2 linked regions of the Homo sapiens genome follow. The protein of the gene in region 2 purifies or fractionates together with the protein of the main gene of each other region. This does not show direct contact. Each region holds a gene or a part of one and is shown on either strand. Other genes may lie near its edges.

Evidence for each region. Proteins that work in one complex are often made in the same cells at the same time.
Region 1: the proteins of OLIG1 (region 2) and ACAD8 purify together in Homo sapiens (affinity purification with mass spectrometry; one large-scale study listed by BioGRID and IntAct). This does not show direct contact.

Annotation. Positions count from the first base shown.
Region 1 is NC_000011.10:134,256,568-134,260,067, reverse strand, and holds part of ACAD8 (isobutyryl-CoA dehydrogenase, mitochondrial), read right to left. Parts: coding exon 3,420-3,500; intron 2,981-3,419; coding exon 2,811-2,980; intron 1,554-2,810; coding exon 1,444-1,553; intron 1,061-1,443; coding exon 984-1,060; intron 461-983; coding exon 323-460; intron 40-322; coding exon of another isoform or gene 1-39.
Region 2 is NC_000021.9:33,068,673-33,072,913, reverse strand, and holds OLIG1 (oligodendrocyte transcription factor 1), read right to left. Parts: upstream 2,774-4,241; 5' UTR 2,668-2,773; coding exon 1,852-2,667; 3' UTR 501-1,851; downstream 1-500. UniProt on the Homo sapiens protein: Promotes formation and maturation of oligodendrocytes, especially within the brain. Cooperates with OLIG2 to establish the pMN domain of the embryonic neural tube.

The sequences.
Region 1 (3,500 bases), on a different chromosome or scaffold from region 2:
GTCTCTTCCTGGAGCAACAAAGTGCACCAACGTAAGCAGCTGGATAAGGAACACAGGCCAAAAGCAGAGGCAGGAGAGGTCAGAACACTCACAGGTGGCTTGAAGAATTTACTGGCAAACATTGTCACTTTCCCCAGAGGCCTAGTGTTTAATAATGCCCTGTTGTATTTCATATGCTCCTGTTGAAAATCCTAATAGAAGCAACTGCTTCAAAGGTAGGTTAGCAAGTATGCAAACCTGTTTTCTGAAATAGAGCAGGAGTTGGGCTGGCAGGTGGCAGAGTCTCATAACCTGAATTGTTTCCTGTCCAACAGCCACTCACCTTTTTCTCCTTCTTGCCAAAGCTGAGGCCAGGGGTCCCCTTCTCAACAACTATGCATGAGATGCCCTTGGGGCCTGGTCCTCCTGTTCGGCACATGACCACATAGATGTCTGACTCACCAGCACCACTGATGAAGGCCTGTGGGGGTAAAAGGGGTGCAAAAGGACCAGGGAATGCTTGAGTTCTCACAGCGTCTGGGAACACCACTGGGTCCTCCTGACAATAAGGTCCAATGGCACAGAGACTGACAATAAGGTCCAATGGCACAGAGACTGACAATAAGGTCCAATGGCACAGAGACTGACAATAAGGTCCAATGGCACAGAGACTGACAATAAGGTCCAATGGCACAGAGACTGACAATAAGGTCCAATGGCACAGAGACTGAGGTGAGGTAAAAGGTCGCTGCAGTGACTGCAGATCAGAGAGGCAGTCCAAGAGAGTATAAAAAGGATAGACAAAAGTCAACGAAATGATCTGGAATCAGATTAGGAGAGATACAAACAGTGAGAATAAAGAAAGAGAAATGGGTCAGAGGTTCTCTTCCCAACACATAAAAATCCTATGGGAGTATTAACCCGCGGATGTGAAGGAACCAGAGGATGTCAGGAGGAAGCTGGGAACAATCTCCAAAGTGCTCTGGGAGGACGCACGCTAGTACCTTGGAGCCATTGAGGATGTAATGATCTCCCTGTTTCTTAGCGGAGGTCAGAAGAGAGGCAGCATCACTCCCACTTCCTGAGGAGGGATCAAAAGGCAGCAGAGAGAAGGTGAGAAAGTCAGTGAGGTCGAGGGAGCCCAGCACAATTCTATCTTCTAGGAAATCTTCTCTAAACAGACCCTGCTCAGAGTGTGTCACTGCAAAACCCAAGTGGCCAAAGGAACTCTCTGTACTTGGTGGAAACTGCTCATACCAGTCAGGCCACTGCCTACCTCCCAACACACCAGATAGGCTTCTTGGTCCTTGTGACATCAGGTCACAGGACTCTATTACTCCTCAACCAAACAGCTAGATAAACAGTGGCTCGACATGTCAAGAGGCTGGAAGGAGTGCTCGGTAATGCCATCTGAGCAGGAAGCATCTCTCCCTGCTATATCTCAGTGCAGTGTGGCAAATTCACCTGGTTCAGTGAGGCAGTAGGAAGCAAACTTCTCCATGGTACAGAGCGGTGGGCAAAATTTGTGCCTCTGTTCCTCATTTCCGAAGCTATCAATCATCCAGGCACACATGCTGATAGGTACACCAAGAAGAAAAGACAATGACAGAAATAAAGATGGAAAAGAAAAAAAAATGGGGGAGAAGGGGAAAGAGAACAAAGGGCAGGGCAGTGGAGTAAAGCAGAAGAGTGGGAAGGGGAGAGTCACAATTGGGAAGACTCTTTAAAGGCAAACGGTGGATTAAAACATATTCCTGGAATAAGGACTACCCAGAGATAACCAGGCTGAGGTACTTCTCACCAGCACGTTTGTACTACTTCTAGTTAGGTTACACGAGCCTCTAAAAATCAGAGTTATATGTGCTTTCTATTAGTAGTTTCTATTACTTCCTCAAATCACTGGCAGTTCCATCTTTGGATTGAGGAAAAGGGTGAGAGGGGCCGGGTGCGGTGGCTCACATCTGTAATCCCAGCACTATGGGAGGCCGAGGCAGGCAGAACACAAGGTCAGGAGTTTGAGACCAGCCTGACTAACATGGTGAAACCCCATCTCTACTAAATATGAAAAAAAATTAGCCAGGTGTGGTGGCACGTGCCTGTAATCCCAGCTACTCAGGAGGCTGAGGCAGGAGAATCACTTGAACCGGGGAGACGGAGGTTGCAGTGAGCCGAGGTCATGCCACTGCACCCTAGCCTGGGCAACAGAGCGAGACTCTGTCTTAAAAATAAATAAATAAATAAAAGGGTGAGAGGACCCTGATCACTCTATTGGAGAAGTCTCCTGGTACCAGCTCAAAATAAGATTTCTGAGAAAGCTGGCTGACCTGATTCCCTAAGCAATACACAGGATGACAGAATCAAGTCCAACAGGCAGCAACAGACCTAGCGTGTACTTATTTTATTTATTTATTTTTTTTGAGATGGAGTCTCGCTCTGTCGCCCAGGCTGGAGTGCAGTGGTCCATCTCGGCTCACTGCAAGCTCCGCCTCCCGGGTTCACACCATCCTCCTGCCTCAGCCTCCCGAGTAGCTGGGACTACAGGCGCCAGCCACCACACCCGGCTAATTTTTTGTATTTTTAGCAGGGACGGGGTTTCACCACGTTGGCCAGGCTGGTCTCAAACTCCTGACCTCGTGATCTGCCTGCCTTGGCCTCCCAAAGTGCTGGGATTACAGGCACGAGCCACTGCGCCCGGCCCCTAGAGTGTACTTTTAAGTCCAGTTCCTTGAGGACACTCAGCTTCAAAAGATCAATCTTTTTCCTACGAATCTGAACTCTCACAGTCAGCCCGAGTGAGCACTTCATTGTGCCTTCCAAGCTTGGGCACTCACTTGTGGATGCTTATATAGGCTGTGGTGCTGGTGCAGCCTGTAGCCAAGGCTTCAAAAATGACAGAGGTATCAAGACGTGACAGCCCAGACCCGCCCACATCTGTTTGTATGTAGACCCCTCCGAAGCCTAGCTGGGCTGCCTTCCGCATCACATCCACTGGGAACAGCTCCTATGTACAAAAGAGAGCAGGGTGATCAGCAGCTGATTCAGAGACGGCCTTCCTTTTAGAGGGCACAGTGAGGGATTAGGAGGCTTGCACATGCGACAGCGTATGAATTCTCTTAATATGCCTGTTTGTCATCTTACAGTGGTTATCAGTTAACATGGGTCCTGTAAAAACTTGTTCTGGCATTAAGAAGTTTCTTTTTATTATCTATAGAACTGCCTTAGTTTTATATCCAAATCTTTATTCAACTAACAAAAAAAAAGTTATGTACAAGATGATCAGGATGCCTTCTAGGAAAAATCATCCACTACCGGTATTCTCACTTGCAGTAAGAGTTGGTAAGTGGAGGAGACATTTAACAATTACATTATCAGGAGACAAAGATAAAGGTCTGCCTGAGACATCTGTTGTTAGAACGTCTAAGCACAAGAAAAACGCCTACCTTCTGGTCCCACTCTGCCATATTTGGAGCCATCTCTCGGGCAGCAAAGTCAAAGGCCACTTTTTGAAATTCTTTCTGCTC
Region 2 (4,241 bases):
TTTCTTCACCTCTTAGGTGAAGACAATTCCAACCTGATTTAAATGATAAGGGGTAGGTGGGTGCAGCAGCGGGAAGCTCATGCTTGTGTGGTATTAAGCTTCTGTCCAAGGATATAGAAAAGGTGGATATCCTGGAAGGATGTTGAGCTACAATTTTATGATAAAGGTATTGCTTAACCCATTTTCCAGGGGATGAAGTTGTAGTTAAAAAAGACCTATGCCTGAAGCTTGGCAAAGAATGAATTCCTGGAATTGCCTCTCTCCCTTCTCTATCCCATTCTCTATCCCACCCACCCACTTACCTATAATCCTCATATTTCCCACGAATGCCTGAACTTGAACTACAGTTGCCTGTTCATTGGATTATTTTACAAATCAGGAAGTCACATTTTAAAACCTGGGACCCCGGTCATTTACCTACCTTCACCCCAAGGTTCTAAATCCACTAGGATACAAGGACTTTTTTATTACCAAACAAATCAGACAAAAAATGTAAAAAATCAGACTTTAAATGTTTTATTTTGTTGATTCTGTACACCGTCAGGAAACAAGGTTAGAAGTAAAATAAAGTGCCAGTTAAATTCGGCTACTACCAACAACCAAAACCTTAAACATAGAAAATCAAAGTAAACTGCGGAAAGGTCATAGCATAACCTTGGGTAAAGGAATTTGTTAACGTCTGTAACAAATCGAAACTGACTACGTATGTAGCTCTTCAACTGCAAGACGGCGAGAAGGAAGACCTGCGGGCCGCGCTGGTCAAGGGCCCGGCCCGCTGAGGAACAGCGGAAAGCGCCTTCCCGCCGTCGCCACCGCAGCTGGGATCCGCCGAGCAGCGGGCGGTTCAGGGCTCCCGGTACTCCTGCGTGTTAATGAGAACGTTCATTAGCGCTCTTGACAGGACGGCGACTGTGAGACGCCTGGTTACCTATTTTAGTAAATCGGGAACACTGGATGCAAGGCGGTTGGTTTTCGTTTTTAAGCAAGCTTAAATGTTGGTTACGCTACTTTTGGGGAAAGGGAAACGAAAGGTGAATCTCGAGTTCTAAGTTGCTTTCTAAGAAACCCCCAGGATTTAAGAGCGAAAACTCTCTGCGACAAAACACTGGATACGCGAGTCTTAAATACAGCTCTCCAAACAGCTGGTCTACAAAAGTGGACCCACGTCCCAACCCAGCGCACCCTGCGTTGTCCTCGCCCCTACCCACCGCACCCCGACGCCGACCACCTGTCCGCCGAGGGTCCGTCCGTCTGCCACGTCCCAGACCGTCTGCACCGCCTAACTGGTCTTTTTCTGCCTCTTGAGTTCCGGCAGCCTCCTTTGATAGGACCTGGCCGGCGGGAACAAGGGCGCCCGTGGCCTCTGGCGGAGGAGAAGGAAAAGAACCACCCCTCCGCCCCCGCCACTGCTCGAGCGCAGCCCCTAGTACTGGGAGCCGGCGTGCTCCGCTCCGGGGAGGTAGCGCTCGGGGATGGCCTCTCGCTGCACCCGGGGCGCGCCAACCACGGCAAGGCGCCCTAAGTTCTACATCGGCCCCGCGAAGCGCGCAACTCCAGGGACAAGGAGAGAGATGTGCTGGGTGAGAGCGAGCACTTTCTGCCTAAAGCCGCTGGAACCGACCCAGAACCCCAAACTGCCCCGAGGCGCCATCGAACATCCGCTCTGGTCACTTTAACGTCCCAGGGGTGGGGGCGGGGAAGGGGGTGCCCGACAGTCCCTTCCTCTGGACTGGAAGGTTCGAAATGCTTTCCTTGCTCGGCCTCGCTCTCCCAGACGCAGGGAGCAGGGGCGCGGAGAAGCTGAGCGAAGGGAGGCCGGGCCGAGGTCGCGCCCCAGGCCCAGGCCCGCCCTCACTTGGAGAATTGCGCCTGCACGGCGGCCAGGCCCAGGCTGGCCGGGACCAGGTGCGGGAACTTGCACACGGCGCAGGTGCAGAGGCCGGGGCCGCCTGCGCCGCCGCCGGGGAGAGCGAACTGGCCGCACGGCGGCTCGTCCAGCGCCAGCGACAGGTACTTGGCGGGGCGCAGCGCGTCGGGGGGTCCTACGGCGCCGGGCGCCAGCAGCACGGAGCCGGGCGCGGCGGCGAGCAGGGGCAGCCCGGCCAGCAGCAGGCGCGGCGCGGCGGGCCCGGCGCCCTCGCCCAGCGCGCGGCGCAGCTCCTGCAGCGAGCTGCCCAGCAGTAGGATGTAGTTGCGGGCGAGCAGCAGCGTGGCTATCTTGGAGAGCTTGCGGCCGGGCGCGCCCTGGCAGTGCGCCGCTGAGTAGGGCAGGATGACCTCGCGCAGGGCGTCCATGGCCAGGTTCAGGTCCTGCATGCGCTTCCGCTCGCGGCTGTTGATCTTGCGCCGCAGCTGCTGCTGCTGCTCCTCCTTGGCGTCCGGCCGGGCGCTGCCGCCCGGGTGCGCGCCTGACCCGGGCCCGGGGCCTGGAGGCTCGGCCGGCGCCTCCGGCTTCTCGCGCGCAGCCTTGGGGAGGAGGGGGGCCGTCGTGGAGGAGGAGGAAGTGGAGGAGGTGGAGGAGGTGGAGGAGGAGGAGGAGGAGGGCGGCTGCCTGTAGCCCACCAGCTCGTAGAGGGAGGCCCCGAGCTGCAAGTCTCCGGGCCGCTGTGGCCGCAGCATGGTCCCGGGGACCGCGTTCACGCGCGCCTGGGAAACCGCATAGTACATCTGGGAGGCGGTGGGGGCGGCCGAGGACGCCCTTCAGGAACGCCCTGGGGTGGGCCGGTCGGCAGGCCGCCCCTCCCCGCGGACCTGCGCGCGGGGAAACGATGGTGGGGCCCTGGCCCGCGCCCTACCCCTTTAAACCCGGCTTGGGAACCTGCGGGGCAGCGGGTGGCGGGGCGCAGCCAATGGAGGCGCGAGGCCGGGCGCAGCCGCGTGTTCATTGGCTGCTTGTGCCGGGGCCGCGCGGAGGTGCGGCTGGCACCGCTTTAGGAGGTTATTGTGAGCGCCTGTGCCAGCCGCGCGGGACAGGCCCCCTGAGCGGAGTAAGGGCGCCTTTTCAAGGCAAGCGGGGCTGTTGAAGGAGGACTGGTCGCACTGGTCAGGCTGCAACTCACGTGCCTTCCTCCAGCAACTGTCTACTCAAAAACAACCTCCCTCATATTTTTTTTTAACTGTGATCACATATTCATAACATAAAATTTACCGTCTTATGTTTAGAGTACTGTTCAGTAATGTTATATGCATTAGTGTGCACATTAAATTGATTTAAATTAAATTCACATTGTTGTGCAACCCATCTCCAGAACTCTTTTCAACTTGCAACCCTGAAGCTCCACCCATTAAACAACTCCCCACTCCCCCCGACCCAAGTTCCTGGAATTCACTCTTCTGTTCTGTCTCTATGAATTTGTTCTACTCTAGGTCCCTCATATAAGTAGAATCATACAGCACTTGTCTTTTAGTGACTGGCTTCTTTCACTTAGCATATTGTCGTCAAGGTTTATCCATGTTGTAGCATGTATCAAAGTTTCTTCCTTTTCAAGGCTGAATAATATTCCAGTATATGGATATACCACATTTGGTTTATCCATTCATTCGTTGATGGACATTTGGGGTGCTTTTGGTTGTTGCGAATTATGCTGCTATGAACATGAGTGTATCATGTTTTTTTTTTCTTAAAATACATAATTTCCTGCCAGGTTCAGGTCGCTAAATTTCTGGACTAAATGACAAGTAGCATTAGGATATTTCCTCCCTGCTGCTCCCAACCTCCTTCCCCATCCCTCTGATTGAAAGGTCTTTAGGGACAAAGGAGCCTTTGGGTCGGGTTTCTATCCTCCCCGAAAGGGATGGTCTATCAGCAACTTGACATTTGCTTAAGCAAAAGTCACTCAGAAATTGGCCTCTTATTAGAAACAAAACAAAACACCCACATAGTCCTATCGGTTGAGGGTGGGAATGAATCATTTTATTTGCCAAATAGAATAGCATTACTTGGTGTCTATGGACATTTTCTGCCCCCAGCACCAGTGCATGCTACTATAACTTGTCAATGTCCTGGGGAAGAGGGCATCTTGGTGGCTGTGCTTGCTGGTTTCAGGGCTGCTTTGTTCTGGTTTTCTTCCACCAATATTTGCCACATGGGTTCACTCTGATCTTTGCTTCTGACCCCCAGCTCTGCCTGTAGCATCCTGCCTATGCCTCAGGTTCAGCTCCAACCTTGCTTTCTTCTGGAAGCCTTGGTGATTTCTCCTCTTCCTCCTTTCATGACTCTTGGCAAACCATTGATAGGATTT